Regions from separate parts of the Homo sapiens genome. Here all the other regions are linked to region 2. Evidence: fine-mapped expression QTL. A gene starts in region 2. Each other region holds a variant in brackets. All regions are shown on one strand. Distances are between the middles of the regions.

Region 1 (6,956 bases), 83 kb after region 2:
AAGATGAGATTTGGGTGGAGACACAAAGCCTAACCATATCAAAGGGGCACCGCGTCCCCATTTCTCTCTATTAGTTATAACACTCAGATATATTCATGAAGTCATGCAGACTTACAGCCTTGCATATCACTTCAGAAACATACGTCCACAGTCTTAGGAAAGGAATTAAGAAGAACTAACATTTGCTGAGGCCTTGCATCTACCTAATACTCTACTGGGATCCTTCATATACATCAGATACACACATCAACCCTAGAAGGTAGGTATTACTATGATCCCCATTTTTCTTGTGGAAAAGCTAATGTAGAGAGAGGTCGCTTAACTTTACTGAGTTAGTAAGTAGCAGAGCTGAGATCTAAATGCAAATGTGAAACCTCCAGAGCATGTGTTTTTCTCACTACACTTTGCTTCCTGTCTTACTATGTTTGCTTGAAAGGAAATATTTTTAACTAAGGGCAAAATGGCAAGCATTTAGTTGAACTACCGCTGGTGAGTTTTAAAGAGGATTTCTACATACGGTATTACAATTTTACTGAATTTCTTGGTTAGCATGTTTAATATTCAGCTCCACAGACCTGAGGTATGCTTGTGGATTAATTATTTTTATGCAGGGGTGAATATTTTTAGAATCGAACTGTTATAATAGCTAAATTCAGGCATGTCCATATGCACTCACGTGCACACACACACAGAGAACAGATTAAGGGACCTAATTTTATTGAAGGAAGCATCAATATTTATGCTTGATAAAGTATATAGATAGAAATTTTCAATTAAGAAGGCAAAATAAAATAGTAAAACTAAAACTGAATCTAAACTAGTTTGAATGTTTAAGAATCAATGGAGTTAATAATATAGTTAACTGAAGATTGGGGATAAAAATCCTCTCTGCTTCACTTGGATGGGAAAACCTCTCAGCCCCCTTTTTCTACCTTGTGGAGCTGCATATTGATGATGGCATTATTGTGCCAATCAGGTTTTGGTTTGTGTCCTTAAGGCACACATACATGTAACTTGTTCAAAGCAAATCACAATGAGAAAAGCACAATTTGGTAACATTGGTTTGACCATTCTTTCCACTGTTGATGTTTCTGTCTCTTAATGCCTTGAGTCTTTATTTTTTTCTGATTCCTGATTTTGGCTTCTGCTTAAGGTTTAGCCTTCAAAATAACCTAGAATATAAGCCTAGAATCTTTCCACAGTGCCTAGCTCCCTTTAAACTGATTGGCTCATTCCACACAAAATCCTACTATTAGTCTGTTTAAAAGCTACCACTATCCAAAGTTCATTTCTGGATAAACAACAGTCCAAAACAGGAGTCCAAGCCACTTATCCATATCTTATCTCATTACTCTTCCTTATCGTTTTTTTGTAGACCTTCTCATCTTGATTCCAGTCATTACCCACTGCTTTCTACCTTGTATTGGGGATAAGCAATCTAATACTGTATTTTGCTATAAATTGACAAATTATAACTGTATATATTTATGGGATAAAATGTGATGTCATGATATATGTATACAATGTGGAATGATTAAATCAAGTATATTAACATATTCATCACCTCAAATATTTATCTTTTTTGTGGAGAGAACATTTGAAGTTTACTCCCTTAGCAATTTTCAAGAATACATTATTGTTACCTACAGTCATCATTCTGTGCCATAAATCTCAAAAAATGTATTCCTCCTGTCTAACTGAAATGTTATACTCTTTGACCAACACCATTACCCACACCCCCAGCATCTGGTAACTACCAGTGTATTCTTTGTTTCCATAAGTTCAATTGTTTTGGATTCCACGTGTAAGTGAAATCCTACAATATTTGTTTTTCTGTGCCTGGATTATTTTACTTAGCATAATGTCCTCCAGGTTCATCAATGTTTTCAGAAATGACAAAATTTCTTCTGATTTTAAAAAGGTGAATTGTATTCCATTGTGTATATATACCACATATTCTTTGTCCATTCATCTGTTGATGGACACCTAGGTTGATTCCATACCTTGGATATAGTGAATAGTGCTGCAATAAACATGGTAGTGCAGATATTTCTTTGAAATATTGATTCCAAATCCTTTGGCTATATAACCAGGAGAGGGATTGATGGCTCATATGGTAGTTTTACTTTTTGTTTTTTGATGAACCTCCATACCATTTTCCACAATGGCTGTACTAATTTACATTCCCACCAACAGTGTACAAGAGTTCCCTTTTCTCTGCATCCTCACCAGCACTAATATTTTGTCTTTTTCTATAATAGCCATTCTGACTAATATGAGGTAATATCTCATTGTGTTTTTAATTGGCTTGTCCCAATGTTTAGTGGTGCTGAGCATTTTTTCATGTATTTGCTGGCCATTTGTATGTCTTACTTTGAGAAATGTCCATTTAAGCTCTTAGGTCATTTTTAAGTCAGTTTGTTCTCTTGCTATTGAATTGTCTGAGTTCCTTAGGTATTTTAGATATTAACTCTTTATCAGATATTAACTCTTTATCCGATATTATAATATGATAATATCAGATCACATTAACATCTGATAAAGAGTTACTATAATTTTCATTGCCTACTTCTGTAGATGTAGAGGACACAGAATAACAATTACATTTTTATTTCTCAATACATCCATGTGTAGCTTCATTTTTTCTTCCTCTTGTCTAAATAAGCAATCCAATTTGGGTTCTTGTACCTGATGATATCAAGCACTGTTTTATTTTATTTTTTCCTGTTTTTTTCAAAATTTTATATTAGGTTCAGGGGTACACATGCATGTTTATTTTATAGGTACACTGCATGTTGCAGGGGTTTGGTGTGCATATTGTTTTATCACCCAAGTAATAAGCATAGTACCCAATAGGTAGTTTTTTGATCCTCACCCTCCTCCCACCCTCTGTCCTCAAGTAGGTCCTGTTGTTTGTTGTTCCCTTCCTTGTGTCCATGTGTACTCAATGTTCAGCCCCCACTTATAAGTGAGATCACTCAGTATTTTGTTTTCTGTTCCTGTGTTAATTTGCTTTGGATAATGGCCTCCAGTTCCATCTGTGTTGATGCAAAGGACATGATCTCATTATTTTTCATAGCTGCATAGTATTCCATGGTGTACATATATGTACCTCATTTTCATCATTCAGTCTACCATTGATGGGCATTTAGGTTGAGTCCATATCTTTGCTATTGTGAATAGAAGCACTGTTTTCGAGCATAAATTTAAGTATCTGCCTGTAGCTTGACTCAAGGAAATTCTGGGCAAGAGGTACCTCATACCACGTTTAAAGCCTGTTGGACTTACCAACCTAGCTTATCTTTTGCCAAGCTCCCATCTAGGATCAATTTGGGTGCCCTGTCTGACTGCATCACTTGGATCATGGACTGTATGTACTACTTTCTTCTTAACTAAATAGATGACTTTGTGAATGTCATGCTTTGCAGGCACTCAGGGTACTCTTATTTACATAATTTTCATTGCTTACCCTATAGATATAGAAAATACAGATTAGTAATTACATTTTTGTTTCTCAATATATCCATATGAAGCTGCTTTTAAAGAATAAATACTTCATATTTATTTACTTTCTCCTAAAAGCAAAAGATTAGAAAATTCTGGGAATCCAAGGATGTGACTCAGTCAGCTACAGTAATGTGGCCAGTACTGCACGTTCCCAATGGGTTCCAATGCAGTTACTCAGA[T/C]ACTAGGAGAAGGATGAGGTAAAATTAGTTGAATAAACATTATACAAGAAATGTATTATAATTGGTGTTAGCATTTTCTTTTCAGGCTAAAGGAAGTACCTAAAATTTTTCTGAAGTAAGATTTTGCTTTTCTTTTTTTTTTTTTTTAATGTTAACTCTTAAATGTAAGCTGGAAACATATAGAATTGAAAACCCATTAGAAATTATTACATCCTTGGCTATTTTATTATTAATCAGTAAGAGGATTAAAAAGGTTTACCATCTATTACCTGACTAGACAACCGATGGGAAAATAAAATTGCATCCAAATGTAATGTTGAATAATTGGCATGTGTAGGCTGCTGGGGACTTTACTCACATGCTCTGTGATTATACCTTCATTATATCCCACTGAAGATATGGCTCGCTGGTGTGCTGTGATTCAAAGGATAAATCTCAGTGTAGTAGCAGTATTACACAAATAAGGTGGAATGTCACAAGTGAAATTAGGCCAATCGAACCCATATAATTCTGAGACTAGTTAAATTTGTTCATACCGGATTGCTTGGTTAGTGTAAACTATATTTACCTGTTCATCTGATTATGATTTTACCTTGTGTTTAGTCTTATCCAAATGAGTGGAAGTTAGGCTATGGACAAAAAGATACTGACCTTATTATTTTAGTGATTGCTAGCACTAGTTTTAGGGGCTTGTCCATTGACCAGGCTATAAGTTTTATCCCTGCTCCCTGATCAGAAATTGCATCCATTGGCCAGGTGTGGTGGCTCACGCCTGTAATCCCAGCACTTTGGGAGGCCGATGTGGGTGGATCACCTGAGGTCAGGAGTTGGAGACCAGCCTGGCCAACGTGGTGAAACCCCATCTGTACTAAAAATACAAAAATTAGCCAGGCATGGTGACACATGCCTGTAATAGCAGCTACTCGGGAGGCTGAGGCAGGAGAATCACTTGAACCTGAGAGGCTGAGGATGCAGTGAGCTGAGATTGCACCATTGCACTCCAGCCTGGGCAACAAGAGCGAGACACTGTCTCAATTAAAAAAAAAAATGTGTCCACTGAAGCTAATGTGGTATAGAGTATCCTCCTCTAGCTGGGCCATCCTTCCTGTTGCTCTTCACTGGCTCACTGCTACTCATCATTTTTGTTTTGTTTTGTTTTGTTTTGTTTTTTCTTTGAGACAGAGTCTCACTCTGTCACCCATGCTGGAGTGCAGTGGCGCAATCTCGGCTCACTGCAAGCTCTGCCTCCTGGGTTCACGCCATTCTCCTGCCTCAGCCTCTCGAGTAGCTGGGACTACAGGCGTCCGCCACCACGCCTGGCTAATTTTTTGTATTTTTAGTAGAGACGGGTTTTCACCATGTTAGACGGGATGGTCTCGATCTCCCGACCTTGTGATCCACCCGCCTCGGCCTCCCAAAGTGCTGGGATTACAGGCGTGAGCCACTGCGCCCAGCCACTGCTACTCATCTTTTAGGCCTAGAAAAAGCCTTTCTTTTCTGCTCTTTCCATGCTGCACCCCTCTGAGGTCCAGGTTAGATGACTCCAAAGGAATGTATGACAGCCAACAGTAGCATAGCAAGATTACCTTAGTCCCTTTCGGTCCCACAGATGTGCTCTAACTGATGGACCCAGATGTCCATAGGTGAGTCTTATCAAGAATAACGAAGCGCTCACCAACTTTTAAACCTCTTTTTATACACTCTTGTTTGTTTGGTTTTAGAAAGTGAAATGTTGCAGTTATTTATCTTAAACAATTAATATTCAATTTATAACTATTCATCTGTACATACTACATTTAAATAACTGGCTTAAACCCTTGGGCAGCTGCTCACATGAATATATGGTTCAGGTTTCCCTTTCACGTAAATCACCCTATATTGTGTTTTACACTGTATTAGTCTGTTTGCATCACTGTAAAGGAATACCTGAGGCTATGCAATTTATAAAGAAAAGTTTAATTGGCTCATGTTTCTGCAGGTTGTACAGGAAGTACAGTGCCAGCATTTGCTTCTGGTAAGGGCCTCAGGAAGCTTACAATCATGACAGCAGGTACATCATATGCTGAGAGCAGGAGCAAGAGAGAGAGAGGAGAGGTGCCACACACGTTTAAACAACGAGATCTCAAATAAATCAACTGGGTGAGAACTCACACATCACCCAGGGGAAGGTGCCAAACCATTAATTAAGGATCTACCCCCATGATCCAATCAACTTCCACCAGGCCCCACCTCCAACATAAGGAATTACATTTCAACATGAGATTTGGCGAGGATGAATATCCAAACCGTATCATACACAAAGTCACACACCCGTGTGCTTACTTGTTTATCATTTATACCCGCCTTTGTTCAGCATGTAAACTTCTTGAGGGCAGCCAAAGTGTTTCATTCGTCTCTAAGTCACTAAATGACTAAAATGAGGTTTGACATATAGTAGACGTTCAGTGTTGTGAGCTGATTGAATGCAAAATAGCTAGCATTTCTTGGATGGTTTTTGTATGTAACATCATGCTAGGCACTATCCCATGCAGTTATGAGGTACTTTCTATAATTATTCACATTTTACAGATTAGGACACCGTGAACTATAGAGTTCAAAATGTCTAAGTTCACAGAGCAAGTAGGTAGCTCAGTGGGGATATGACCTATTCATAGAATGATCTAATCTCAAAGCCCTTGACCTTAAATATTATGAACAATGCCTCTGATATTTGAATTTCTCCTTCCAAGGAAAATGGAGACCTGGGACACTATAGCAAAGATTGGGCCTGTTGCCTCAGGAATCTTGGATAGGCTATCATTTTTCCCGAGGCTACAGCGTAAGAAACCATGGAGATGCTATCAAAGAAACATTACCCTGTGGACAAATGATGATGGAGATTGGCAGATTGTCCCACTCAGCCATCAGACTGAAGGGGGTAGGCACAGGGTGACTCCAAACACAAGACCATGCCAAGGGAACTGGTGAAGAGCAAGAAGGGTCCAAACAGAGGGTTGAAGCCAGAGTATTGAGGGATCGTTGAACTAGGAAGAGTGGCCGTGGCAGGGTGTGTATTTGTAAAGATGCCAATCAGCTTAGACAGCTGAACAAGCCTCCATCCATCCAGACTCCTTTACTACAAACCATCTCTTGATCAGCCACTGAAGATACAGAGCTACATAAGCCATAGATCCTGGAGCAATGGAGAAGGAGATTCTACATATTTGCACAAACTTTGGTGCACAGTGGATGGTCACACTACCCTGCATCCATGGCTGTCTATCAATAATT
Region 2 (6,956 bases):
ATCTGAGAGGCTTTGCAGGCTCCCCGGGACAGGACTAGGGTGACGTCACGGGGGAGGGGGCAGGCAGAGGATCCAGGGCGCGCGGTGGGGGAGGGTTGGGCAGATGCTTCCCTTCCTTGCAAGTGGCTTTGCAAAGCTCAATTCCCGGCTGCGTCAGTTGATTCTGAACTACTCCACCTCCAACCTGGCTGGCGGCAGGAGAAGCTCCTGCAGAGGGGTTTCTCAAGGAGGGGCCCTGCTAATGGCCTGGCACCTCCTTGGGCCCCTCTGTGTGTTCTCTCTCACTCCTCCCTCTTTCTCTCACCTACACAATGCCTATGGAGGGCAGGGGTGGGGGTGGGGGGTTCTTCTCCCAGATTCCCAAGCAAGGGAGAAGCGTGTGTGTGTGTGTGTGTGTGTGTGTGTGAGTGAGAGAGAGAGAGAGAGAGAGTGTGTGTGTGTGTGTGTGTGTGTGTGTGTGGTGTGCCTCTTTGCTACAGGACTGGTGCCCCACTTGCCAGCTCCTAGCTCAGATGCTCTCTGTGCAGAGAGTGGGGTGTGTGTGCATGCACCAATGTGTCTGTGTAGGAGGGTGAGGAGTTCTCTTAGGGGATTTATACTTTACATACAGAGCCCTGATTCAGTGCTAAGAGAATTCCTTTCTGGGTGGTGACCCACCAAACATATTTGCCTGGACTCTGAAAGTCAGCTCAATGTTAGCTTATAGACTGAGAAAAACAAAAACAAACCCCTTTTCTCCCTGAGGTTTATACTTAGCCAGATAATGAGGTTTAAACGTGCACTTCTTGCCTGGAGGAAGGAGAAAAGAAGTGGGTGTCAGAAAAGCACTGCCAGGCTGAGCCTCAGCTGGGAGTGGGAGCCAAAGGAAGGGTGGTTGAGCCCTCCAGGCTGCAGGGGCAGGGGAGCTAGGAGAAAAGAGGAAGCTGGTGCAGGAAGACTGGCTCCTGAGAAAGAGAGGAGATGGAAAAGGAATCCTGGCCTGAGACCGAGCTTACCTGGGTTCTGATCTGGCTCTGTTGCTAGATGTGCCACTAGCTTCTGGATCTTCCTGTGTCCATCTGCAAAAGGCAGGTAGGTAGACTGTATGGGCCCTCCCAGCTCTGATATCCAATGCGGGTTTAAATAGCCTTTCCAGAGCATTGCTAATGGCCAGGTGTTGGATTTTTGCCTTCATTATCTGTTTTCTCCTTAATTATCTTACAGCTCCTTGGACCCAAGAGTCTTCCATTGTGGAATCAATTCGCAAGGGGTAAATAATGTCTGCTGTTGCCTGGAAAGGCCTTGGTTGCCTCTGGTAGGAAGGGGGAGATGGGTCAGGAAAAGGAGGGAATCAACCAGGGAAAAGGAGTTGACCAAATGATGTGCCTGTCCCACAAAACACTTCAGCTTGCTTTCCCGGAGTCCCACTGCCTGGCCAAATGTGGAATAGATAAACACACAGATACAACAAACCACTTGAGAACAGAATGACCCTTGCTTCTCCCCTTCTCCTTCCTTGTTAAGCCTAGGTTCTAGGATTGTTCCCTTTATACAAGCTCCTTTCTCTCCGGGAAGGGCGGGGGTAGTTTATAAACTTAGGCACTAGGGCCACCTGTAGCTGGTGATCTGTGCATTATTTTCTTGAGCTTTCTCCCTTTCTCCTTCTTCTTCTTCTAAGAGCCTTGGACCAGGCATCAGAAGCCCCCTTACCCTCTAATTCTTGCTTGGCGTTTAGCAAAATACTTTCCTTCTGGAGACTCAAATTTTCCTTCTCCATAGAGAAGGGCAAACTTGAGATGAGCTCTGAGGCAGAGGGACAGCCCTGTGGATGGCCTCCCACCCTGTATTGCAATTGCATCATTAGATGGAAGCAGTCTGATGCAGTGGGAGCACAATTAAGCTCCCTTTCCTAGCAAAGGAGGCATTTGTTTCTATGTATTTCCAAAGGTTAAAAGCACATAGTTCCTAGAGCAATAAGATTTATTCATTCAGTCATTCATTCAACAAACATGTATTATGTCAATATTTAACTGAAGTAAAGACGTGAGAGCCGAACAAGACCTTAGAAGTCAGGTTCATTTTACAGATGAGGTCATTTCTTAACCAGGGAAAGTGCTGACTTACTCAAGAAACTACAAATAGAAACAAAACCCAGGGATTATGAGTCCCAGTCCATCATCTTTCCAAAAAGCACACTACTGCTTAATATGAATTAAAAATCTACTTAAACGTAAATAGCAGTGGTAGTGTTTTACTTAAAGGTATCCTTTTTATTAAAAAAAAATGTATTTGAAAGTGAAACATCAAATACTAGTTTCGGTTCTCAGATACAGTAATTTCCTTCAAGACATTGATGACGCTTTCAATATTCCTTGAGGACAGATTATTTTTGCGAAGAATTTCAGAGACAGGAGAGAGATTCAGAGAGAAAGGTGGAGGTGGTTGGGGGCTCATGAGATTCTTGAGACCTACAGAATCAAGGAAATTCATGGGTAATCTAACTGTGGGAAGCGACACTCGGACCCTAAGGAGGTCTTCGTTCCTGCCTGTCCTTGAGAGTCCACAGCTGCTTTCCAAAACGTAGTTACTAGGAACAAATCAGCCTGAAACGCGATAACCACTTTAAGTAAGTTTCATTTGGCCCCGTGTCTTCTGAAGAACTGCCGCAGCACTCCGCTAGGGAGAGCGGGCTTTTAAGGCTGTGGAAAGGTTCAGGGTGAACTGGGACCCCAAGGGAGGGAAAGGCGGTCATTAAAATAAGGAAAACGCTCCCTCTCCTTGCTGAGGCAAGGGAGGCTTAAAGACGAACTCCGTCGCCTGTCTCACTCGCATCTAACCGAGTAGAGCCTGGCTCAGGTCTCCAAGCCTTCCACAGGACACGGTGGGTGCCGGCGGGCTTACAGCCCACCTCCGTCCCGGCCGCCCATCAGGCCACGAGGGGGCTAAGAGGAGTCCGGGGAACCAGAGAGGGGGCACTGCTTGCCCGCAGCCTCTTCTTCTAAACACCCGCCGCCCGCAAGCCGGGTCGAATCCCATTTCCGAAGGGCGCTTCCGGGAGACCAGGTGTCTCCGAGCGTCCCCGATCGCCGGTAACTGGGCACCGGCCGCCAGCGCAGCCCTACCTTCCCTGCCCCTACCTGCTAGACGCCTGGTGCGGTGCCCGGCATGCGGACCTACAGCCGCGACGGCCACTCGGGCTGCCCTCGCCATGGGACTTGGGCACTGCAGGCCGACCGGAGGCTTCTAGCTCGCGCCGGGTGCGTGGGCCCTCCCTGGCCGCCTGTGCCACCCCGCTGCGCGAGGCGCGGAGCCCGACCACGCCCGCGCGGACGGTCCCGGGGTGAGGAATCTCCAGTGGGGATTGAGGGTAGAGGGCGGCCGCCAGCGAGCTGCCCTCCGCGGATGGCGCCCAGCCTCCCCACGCTGGTGCCCCTCGCAAGGAGAGGTGGCCGGGAAAGGCAACGGACTGAGGAAAGCCGGCTCACTGGCCGCGTCGCCACCGCGTCCCTGAGTGCTCAGAACTTACCGAGCGAGCGCGCCGCCCAGATCTTTTCCCGGAGGCGCCCGCAGCATCTGCGACTCGGGGAGGCAAAGGAGCCGGCACCGCCTCGGACTGGCGCAGCCCAGGAGCGAGAGCACCGCGGGGAGCGCGGGCGGCGCCCCCAGGGCAGGCAGATCCCCACCGAGCAGCTAGCCAACGGGCAACGCTTCTTGCAGGAAGGAGGGAGGGAGGCGAGAGGGAGGAGGGAAGTAAAGCGGGAGGGAGGAGAGGGGAAGAAGGGAGGGAGGAGGGAGGAGGGAGGGAGGAGGGAGGAGGGAGTGAGGAGGGAGGAGGGAGGGAGGAGGGAGGGAGGGATCGCGTCCCCCCTCTCCCTCACTTATCAATCACCCCACAGATCAAATATCCGGGCTGTGCACCCAGGACGGGGATGTAAGAGCCCACAAAGGAGCCGCTGCTCCATTTCTCTGACAAGCGCTGCGGAGCACTGCTCACGCCTCTCGGTCCCTCTTGCCTGGAACTCTGCCCAGCCCTTGCGGCTTCCACCCTGGGCTGCAGCTCGGGCTCGGTCAAGTGAAATAAGAATGGCACACGGTCGGTACCATGTCCAAGGGGAGACTAAGACTACTGGGTGGAAGTTAACGACAAGTGAAAGAGCAGTCAGCCATCCGAGCTGGACACCCTCCGGGACAGCTGCCTCCCCTAACTAGTAAGCGCCCAGTCTTTGGGAGTTCGCAGGCAGATATTTAAGAACCTCCTACGAGGATCGTAAACAAGGACTTTCAACATAAGATAGAGCTGAACTTGAGTTGTGCAAGTGTGTTAACAAAGCAAGCCCTTAGCAGCGTTCCAGTGCCCATTTTGATTCCCTTTATTCTTCACGACGACGTTGCCTGGATCTTCTAGAGCGTGATTTTTGCCATCCTCCCTTCCCTTTTCTCCTTTCTTCTTCCTCTTATTAGTAGTCCAGGTGGTTGTGATTCTATTAAAGGAAGGCGCTCTGTGAAAAGAGTCAGTGTAGTTCAAGAGGGAGGTGCGGTTTTTGCCAAGAGCATTGCGTTTCCCCTCAAGACTTGCTTTCTCTAGGGCCTCTCCTCTACTCTTCCAGAGTATTCGAGATAAAGTTGCAGTTTGATAAATTTATGCCAGGAGTAGGGAGTTCATTTGATGACACTAAGTCATTTTCCCCTCCATCCTGTAGGAGAACGTCATTAATTCAAGTCGTTGCCACCCCCTATCCTTTTCATGCCCGCTAGAGTCTGCAAAACCCCAAATCCTTCTTACTGTCGAAAAGCGTGATGGTGGAGAGCAGACGGGGAGGCGAGGAGAGAGGTGCAAAATTAGACGCAAAATTACCTCTCCAGCTAGTGGATCTGCATTGGAATTTGTCTGTTTCCATATTTCCCATGCCTTTCAACTCGTTCTCACAGCACTGACAACCACCTTTTTCTTGTCCTTCCCGTGGGAATCTTTTGTGCTTCTCCTGTCCTCTCTTCTTGGCTTTCTTTCATAATGGTTTTCTAAGGAGATTATGCTGGGCTTTTTAAAAAGAAAACTACTGGCAATCTTATATTATGAAGATGTACAGAGTTTGCTTTAATAATAGTCGGAAGAATTATAATCGTATCTTCGGAGTTGTAAGGGTCATTACTGTTCCTTTTATTTCATTCTTGAGAAAGCCTTTTTGAAATCTTCCTACCATTCAGATAAGCAACTTCGGAATAACATAGTTCTCACATAAGCACGTGGGCAGTGTATGTACGGTTATATATCCAGAAGCATTGCTCTTCTTTTTACAATATCTGTATTAGTGTAAACATCCAATGTGCTGTTTGCTACAGACTAAAAGCAGTGCACTGAGCACATCATATTATTAACTAAATGAGGTCAGTTAATACTGTTACTTCTGTCTTTACCGTATTTCTGACTGTGTCATCTTTTCATGTCGCTTTTAGTAGATGTTATAAACAACTGCAAAACACAGAGCTAAGAGGCCATTCCAATACAGAAATAATGAGACAGTCATGCTGAAAAACTCAGACAGTTTACTAAGAAGGGTGATGTGTCTGTAGCCAAAGGGAACATACAAAATAAGCAAAAACTTCTATACAGAGTAGAGAAGGAACATGGCATTAATGATGAAAAGTGATACTTTATTTAGATCCAGTAGTAACATGTAATAGATGGCATGCATCAATTTTAATTAGCCTTGTAAGCAAGTCTAACCTGTTCACCAGCCTTCGAAAAGCATTTAGCAGCCTGCCTTTCCACATGGGACCACACTGATAGTAAGACAAAATTAAAAAGAGCAGACTTTTCTTTTTGTCAGCATAAAATTTTCAAGTAGGTGGATAGCTGTGCTTTGAATGCACAGACACGAAAATTGATGAGCAATATAAAACTTTCTGAGAGGGTTTTGCATAGACAGTTATAATGGAGGAGAGTTTGAAGTCTGTGAAAAATTTAAATATGCCAATTTATTTGAAAGCTGCTTTATGCTGAATTTTCTAAAAGCTTCTGTGTTAGAGGAAAATTTCCAAATAGAATTGAATACTAGAGACACCATATTAATGTACTTCTGTTCATTAATAAAAATCACATTATTCTTCTTTATACTAGCACTGTAAATGTATCTTTATATCCATGTGCTGTTTTCTTTTTGAAAAACTTTTATTTTAGGTTCAGGTGTACGTGTGCAAGTTTGTTATATAGGTAAATTGCATGTGGTGGGGGTTTGGTTTACTGTAAGCTACTTTCTATTGTGAAGTTCGTGTTACTAAACAACATAGAGATCCCGATTGGAAAACTAGTGGAAAAACAGAGAAATAAAACTAAATCTTGCCTGGGTTTTTATAATTTCATTCTAAGGTTAGAAGAAAACCAGAAATTTCACCTGCGATGAGTGAGATAAAAAGCGCATATGTTTCCAGGATGATGTAAAGGATGTCCTATTACTGTGTAGTACGTAATTTACCTGAGAATGTTGCTTTTTCAACTTCTTCACACCTATCCAGAACTAGAAAGCTTTAAAACATATAAAAGAAGACAAAATGTGCTGCATTTTCAGTGAACATAGTTTCTTTCCAACCAAAGGTTTCAAAGAAGAGTGCCACAGAACAAATTCCTAAATAAAGAAACGCAACAAAGCGGACATGCCCTTAATATTAGTAATTATAGTTTACAGGATATTGTAGACTTTTGTTCCTGATGTTATTGAAAAGGTGGATATTTTTCAATTCAATTCAATTATTTGGATTATTTGGCAGGCATTTTGGCCTGATTGAAATAGTGCTGGGCCAAGACCCAGGGCAGTTTTTCTTTTAATCAAATACATATCCAAGCCCTTGGAGCCCAATGACCTGGGTTCAAATTCCACCCGTGCTACTTTCTCACAATGGGACAAAAACAGCATTACACCAATTTCAGTTCCCCATGTGTAAAACTGGCACCTGCTATGTGGAGTCAGTAAGGATGGGAT
Region 3 (6,956 bases), 420 kb after region 2:
GAATTTCTATTTTTTAATAATTTCTCTTTCTTAATATTCTACTTTTGTTCATATGTCATTTTTCTGATTTACTTTAGTTGTCTATCTGTGTTTATTTGTATGTTATGGAGTTTTTTCAGTTAATTATTTTTAATTACTTGCCAGGTAATTTACTGTTCTCCATCATTTTGGGATTGTTTACATGAGATTTTTAAAAATTCACAGATTGGGTCATTTTTTCCTAATTATGTTTCTTGTAGCTTTGTGTTGGTATCTTCATATTTGATGAAAGAGTCACATCTCTCCATTCTTACGGACTGGCTTTGACAGAGAAAGGCCTTTACCAGTTAGCTTGGCTAGAGATTCTGGTAGCTTCTCAAACCTTTTCTACAGATGTCTTCTTTGGATTTTTGTCTGTAGATTTCTACTAAAAGGGATTTATTGGTTGATTTTCTTTCAGAAGCCTGAAATCTTTTGGGCTCTTTGCTGTCTTACTGCTATACCATAGGTTGAGATACCGGAAGCATACTCCATTTCTCCTTCTTTCTGGGAGAGTTGCCACAGATTCTGCACCTTGTCTCAATCTTGCAGAGCTGTACCAGCTTCAGCAAGCTGTCTGACACTCTTCTTTGTTCTTAAGTGCCCCAAGACATAGGAACTATGCCAGCTCTGCCAGTGCTCCGGATGAGGAAAGACAGGAAAAGACAGAAACTGGTTCTTCAGGCAGTTCACCCAAAAATCCGGAAACATTAGACATAATCTCATTCCACCTAAGAAGAAAGTTGTAAGCCAAGGTGCTCGCTCATGGTACTGAGCTGTGCAATATTGGGGGAATTACTAAGGTTGGTACATTGAAGTTGCTCTTCTTATCCATTTCAGTATTGGCTGTTCTCAGTGTTGTGCTCATCTGAGGTACTACAACCTCTTAACTGGATTCTGGACCTCTCATAAAGGTAGTTTGGTTCGTGTATCATAACTAAATTGGTGTTTTGTGGGTGGAAGAAAACTGGGACTTCCTATTCATCTTGCTGATGTCACTTTGGATGTTTAATTTTCTAAGATCCATTCCTTTTGCATTAAAGTCAATAGTGACTTTCTTCAGTTTCTACTTACAACTAGCAAACACAAGCATGTATATTTGTGATGCAGAAACAAAGGTCCAAATAGTGGAGAATGTAGACTGAAGAGTGTTTCCAAAGGTTGGAGCTCTGTTCAGTGTCATTATTTCAAATAACGAGAAGTTATATTTCTTTATTTTCCACTGATGTTGACCTTAATTTATGATCCATGTTAAATTAATTCGACAAATTAATTTATAAAAATTTATTGAGAACCTATACTATTCCACACACTGTTTTAGGCACCGGGAATGCAGCAATGAACAATATAGACAAAAAATCCCTGCTCTCATGGAGGTTGTATTCTATATGATGGGGTTGACCTGGGTAACTTTGTTATTGTTTCATTATTGCATATGTAAGTAAAGCAAGACTAAATAAAGTTGTAGTAACAAACAACTTACAAATCTCAGTGACAATACTGTGCTGTGTGTATTTCTTTGTATATTTCCTTTTTCACTCTATTTCTATTCTGCTTTAAAATATGACTTTTCTCATCTCATCATGGCTATCCTGAGACCCAGGATCATAGGAGCTTCATCTCAACACATGCTTCCATGACTCCATAGTTGTGGAGAAAAAAATAATCTTAAAGATTCTGACTGAAAATGGGACACCATCACTACTCACTAGCATGTCATTGGCCAAAGCATATAACATAGCTTTTCCTGAGTTCAACAAGGCTGGATATAATCCTTTTGCAAGTGAGGAAGCAAATTTTTGTAAATGATAATGTATTATAGTAAATTCCTTACACACTTCTTAAATATGTATTATGTCTCTTTTAATGCCAGGACTGTGTTTAATGCTGGGATTAAAACAGTAAAGAAGACCTTTTTGCCAGTTAATGAGCTAGGCTTAGGTGGTTAAAAGAGTGAACAAGACTTTTTACAAGTAAAATTACACAATCTAGCCATTGAGACAGAGTTTAAGATAAAGTAATTGTACAAATATCTAACCAAGAATAAATAGTATACCAGCTTCCAAATTCCATTAATGGCAGAATAGATTATATTAGACAAGCTGTCTGTCAGATAAAGTAATAAACTCTATATGAAATATTTAAAAGATAACTAGTTGAAGGCACTGAAGAGTGACCAAAAGTAAGTAGAAACTGAACAGGAATCAATGATTGAATGTCACTGTGTGACACTACTATTTATTTGGCTCTTTGCATGTTGACAGTTTATGCAGCATTGTGTGACTAGAAATTTGACATAAACATGCAGACATATAAGGTTGAAAACTCAAAGCGGGAGTTCAGTGCTTCTGGAGTGACAGGAAGAGTGGAAGTTGCAGTACCAGGGAAGCCATAGAGGGGATGGCCATACAATTTGTGTATGAGCTCCACGCAAATCTGTATGTAAGATCTATATGAATCCTTAGAACTATACATGGGGATACTGCAAGAAGTACAATATAAAGTAATAGCAGGAAATCGAAGGAAGTTGATTGACAATTTCAGATGCTGCCCACCACAAGAGAGACAGAATTTGGAATCTGATTATAAACAAGTTAACTGCCTGATATATCCCCTACCAAAAAAAAAAACAAAACAAAACACTTTTCAAAAGGAGATGGCAGGACATAGAGTCTCTAAAAAATGTCATTTACATTACTCAGTACCTAATCAGATGTTGGTAGACATGTGAAGAAATGAGATTTTTATCTTTAGTCAAGAAAACAAATTGAAAACACTGTCAATGGGGTGTAATTTAGAGTTTACCTAGATGCCGGAATAACAGGTAAGCACTTTTAAACGACAACTATAAATGTGTTCAAAAACATAAAATATATTCACAATAAGTTAACTTATGGGAAATCTTAGCAGATGAATTAAAATAATAAAAACTTGGAAATCCTAGAAATGAAAATATACTATACTAGAAGTAATAAATTCACCAGATAATATTAACAGCTAAATGAAGAGGAAAGAACAAAATGTCAGTGAATTTATACATATACCAATAAAAACCATACAATTGGCCAGGTGCGGTGGCTCACACCTGTAATCCCAGCACTTTAGGACGCCGAGGAGGGTGGATCACCAGAGGTTAGGAGTTCCAGACCAGCCTGGACAACATGGTGAAACCCCATCTCTACTAAAAATACAAAAATTAGCCGGGTGTGGCAGTGGGTGCTTGTAATTCCAGATAATTGGGAGGCTGAGGAAGGAGAATTGCTTGAACCTGGGGGGCAGAGGTTGCAGTGAGCCGAGATCGTGCCATTACACTCCAGCCTGGGCAACAAGAAAAGAAAAAATCATAAAATCCAGAGAAGAGAGAAAACATTAGAAAAAAGAAAGAAGAATCCCAAGTGACCTGTGAGGAAATATTGAATGATGTAACATACACTTATTGTAGTTGAGAAGTAGAAGAAAGAAAAATTGCAGCACAAAATATACATATACGAGGAAAAAAGTCAGAAAATTCAAAAATTGGTGAAAAACATAAATTTACAGATTTAAGAATTTCAACTAATTCCAAGGTAGACAAATTCAAAGCATATCACATTGTGACACATCATAGTCAAACTGCTAAAATGCAATGATAATGAGAACATCTTGACAACCAGAGAAAAATAATCCATTTCACACACAGGAACAATGATATGAATAACAGCTGCCTTCCCTCTCACCTCATCCCCCCCGAAAAAAGAGTCAAAAGTCTATGTGATAACATTTTTAAAGTGAACAAAGAAAGAATTTCAAAAATGATGACAAACAAGTCCAAGATGGCAGATTAGAGGCTTTTAGCATGCCCCTGTGACTTGGGAAATCGCAAGATAGTGCATAAAGGTGAACTCTGTGTGCTTTAATTCAAGAAGAAAAATAGGAATCCACTGGAATCATGAAGAACATCCCAGATCCTGGGGAGGAGAATGTCAGCAAACAGCCCCCCTTATGACATTTGGCTGATAAAAGTGAGTGAACCCCTAATATATGAGAGAAGCAGAGAACCTCCTTCTGTGACTCACCTTTCTACTGGGAATCC[A/G]AGCAACCCCGGTCAAGGGAGAGCATTTTGTTTCTTCCAAACCTTAAAGTTAAAGTGGGGAAAGGCTTGGAGATGTTGTGAGAGAAAGACACCAGAAAATGTTGCAGACGCTGTTCCAGACCAACAATCAAGAGCAGGATGCCGTTTAAATCCAGGCACATATGAAGTCAGCCATTCGTGGCAACTCGGCAGTGTGGCCACACAGGTATTTTAGTCTTCGAAAAGAGATTGGATCACCTGCTTTTGAGTGGGTAGGGGCCTCCACAGCCCAAACTGTGGAAAGCATCTCAGCAGTAGGTACTGGAATTGGTTCTTCCAACCCCCACCAAGTCTGGGGTGGGAAGAGAGCCACTACAGCTGCAGTTTCCCTTGGGTGGTGAGACTTGCAGCTGGAGCCAGCTTGGTGACCTGAAACTGATCTGCATATGCCATTGCTGCTTGCCCCACCCTACTCTCTTGAGATTGTGGTGCAGCAGGGCCCTCTCTGCTCCACCCCCAGGCAGAAATTCAGGCATTTGGAGCACTAGTTCACCTGGTTCAAGACCCTGAGCTGTCTTACCCTTCATTGGCATAGATCATGGTGCAACAGGGCACTCTCTGCTTCACACCCAGGCAGATTTCCAGGCATTCAGAGCAGCACCTCAACTGGATCAGCAGCCTGACCCACCCCATATTTCCTGTGCAAAGATCCTGGTGGAAGGAGGCCCTTTCCACTGCACGCCCAGGCAGGTCTCCAGGCTTCTGGAAGACCCACTCTCTTTAATTAGGAGTTTAGGCCACTCCTGATCCCATGCAGAGAGCATGGGGCTGAGGAGGTTTCCCAGCTCCACACCTAGACACACTTCTGGGTGCTTGGCAGCCACCCACTGGATTGTCCCATGGCACTGGTGCTCGTGCCTGCCTCTGGGAGACCTGTAGGCAGACCTGCCCGGTTCAGACCCACCCATCATGGCCTCTGCCCCCAGGTGCTGAGCAGGAGCTGAGACCACTGTACATTCCACAAATCAGCCCATTGCCTGAGGCAACAGAGAGCTTCAGGCAGTAAATTAGGACCAAGTTTATATCCAGCTATATTGGCTGCAGCCAGCTCTCACTTATAAGCGCCATCTACTGGCTTACGGGTCAAACTGCACATCCCGATACAAAACCTGCTGAAAGAAGTGCATAGGGCTCTAGAAGCAAAGTCAAAAGACCCTACCCAGCACTCTCTACAGCTACACCCCAAAGAGGGGGTGGAGAGGAAAAGGGAAATAAAAAATCTTAACGGTAACTAGAGAAAAAGTTCATATTACTTACAAAGGGAAAGTCATCAGGTTAACAGCATACTTCTCATCAGAAATCTTGCAAGTCTGGAGAGATTGGTGGCCTACTGTTAGCATATCTAGAGAAAAGAGATTCCAATCAATAATTTTATATCCCACCAAAGAAGGCTTCATAAGTGAATGAGAAATGAAAATATTTTCCAGAGAAGCAAGTGCAAAGGGAATCATGTGGAAAGAAAGAAAAAAAAATTAAAAATCTTACCCATACAAGAATGACTAAAAAATTAGAAATGTCAGCAGCATCTCCAAATTATGGGGAACCAGCACGAGAATTCTGGCACTATGAAAAATCTGAAATGTAGTGACACCACCAAAAGATCACACTAGCTCTCCAGCAATGGTCCTTAGCCAAAATGGAAACTCAGAAATGACAGATAAAGAATTCAAAGTATATATTGCCAGGAAGCTCAATGAGATCCAAGACAAGGTTGAAAATTGACACAAAGAAAAGTCTAAAGCAATTCAGGAAATGAAGGAAGAGAAACATCATAAAAACAAATAAATTAGCTTCTGGAATTGAAAATTCACTTAAGGAATTTCAAAATACAATTGAAAGCTTTATCAATAGACTGGGCCAAGCCAAGTAAAGAAATTTAAGAGCTTGAAGACCAGTCTTTCAAATCAGCCCAGTCAGATAAAAATAAAGAAAAAAAATAAAAATAAACAATGTTTTCAAGAAATATGGGATTATGTAAAGCAACCAAACCTATGAATTACTAGCATTCCTGAGACAGACAGAGAAAAAGTAAACAGCCTGGAAAACATATTTGAGGGAATAATTTAAGAAAACTTTTCTAATCTTGTTAGAGAGGTAGACATTTAGATATAAGAAATCCAGACAACACCTGCAAGATACTATACAAAATGAACATCACGAAGGCATATACTCACTAGAATGTTCAAGATCAACCCTAAAGAAGAAAATCTAAAATTCAGCTATAGAGAAAGGTAAGATTACATGAAAAGGGAAACTCAGCAGGCTAAATGCGGACTTCTCAACAGAAACCTTACAAGCCAAGAGTGACTGGGGATCTATTTTCAGCATTCTTAAAGAAAAGAAATGCCAGTCACTAACGTTATACCTTGCCAAATGAAGTTTCATAAGCCAGGGAGATATAAAACATTTTCCAGATAAGCAAGTGTGAAGGGAACTCATTAACACTAGACTAGCTTGACAAGAGATCCTCAAGGGAGTTCTCAACATGGAAAACAAAGAATAATACCTGCTACCACAAAAACACACTTAAGCACATAGCCTGCAGACTTTATAAAACAACCACACAATGGAAACTGCAAAGCAAACAGCTGAAAACTTCATGATGGGATTAAAACCTCATATATCACTATTAACTTTGAATGTAAATGGTCTAAACACCCTCACTTCAAAGACACAGAGTGGCAAGATGGATAAAAGAACTAGACTCATCCATCTGCTGTCTTCAAGAGACCCAACTAAGACATAACTATAATCATAGGCTTACAATAAAGGGTGACAGAAAGATCTACCATGCAAACAGAAAAAATAAAAAACATAGGTCACTATT

Direction of the effects. Positions count from the first base shown, and alleles are read on the strand shown. Sizes are in standard deviations (SD) of each study's normalised expression. Not every link is listed here.
For the expression in fibroblasts of the gene that starts at base 3,703 in region 2, T is the low allele of the variant in region 1 and C is the other (small effect, 0.35 SD a copy in GTEx).

What was found.
Region 1: its variant is fine-mapped to the expression of SLITRK2 in fibroblasts (GTEx, PIP 0.98).
Region 3: its variant is fine-mapped to the expression of SLITRK2 in fibroblasts (GTEx, PIP 0.96).

What each region holds. Positions count from the first base shown.
Region 1 is chrX:145,731,930-145,738,885 of GRCh38, reverse strand. No RefSeq gene overlaps it. Among named protein-coding and RNA genes, the nearest start is that of SLITRK2, 82 kb to the left of the region's middle. The variant T/C (reference allele first, on the strand shown) is at 3,687.
Region 2 is chrX:145,814,576-145,821,531 of GRCh38, reverse strand. It overlaps SLITRK2 (SLIT and NTRK like family member 2), which reads right to left and starts at 3,703. Exons shown (of 5, transcript NM_032539.5): 1 at 3,506-3,703; 2 at 996-1,058; 3 at 1-184.
Region 3 is chrX:145,392,109-145,399,064 of GRCh38, reverse strand. No RefSeq gene overlaps it. Among named protein-coding and RNA genes, the nearest start is that of SPANXN1, 150 kb to the right of the region's middle. The variant A/G (reference allele first, on the strand shown) is at 4,091.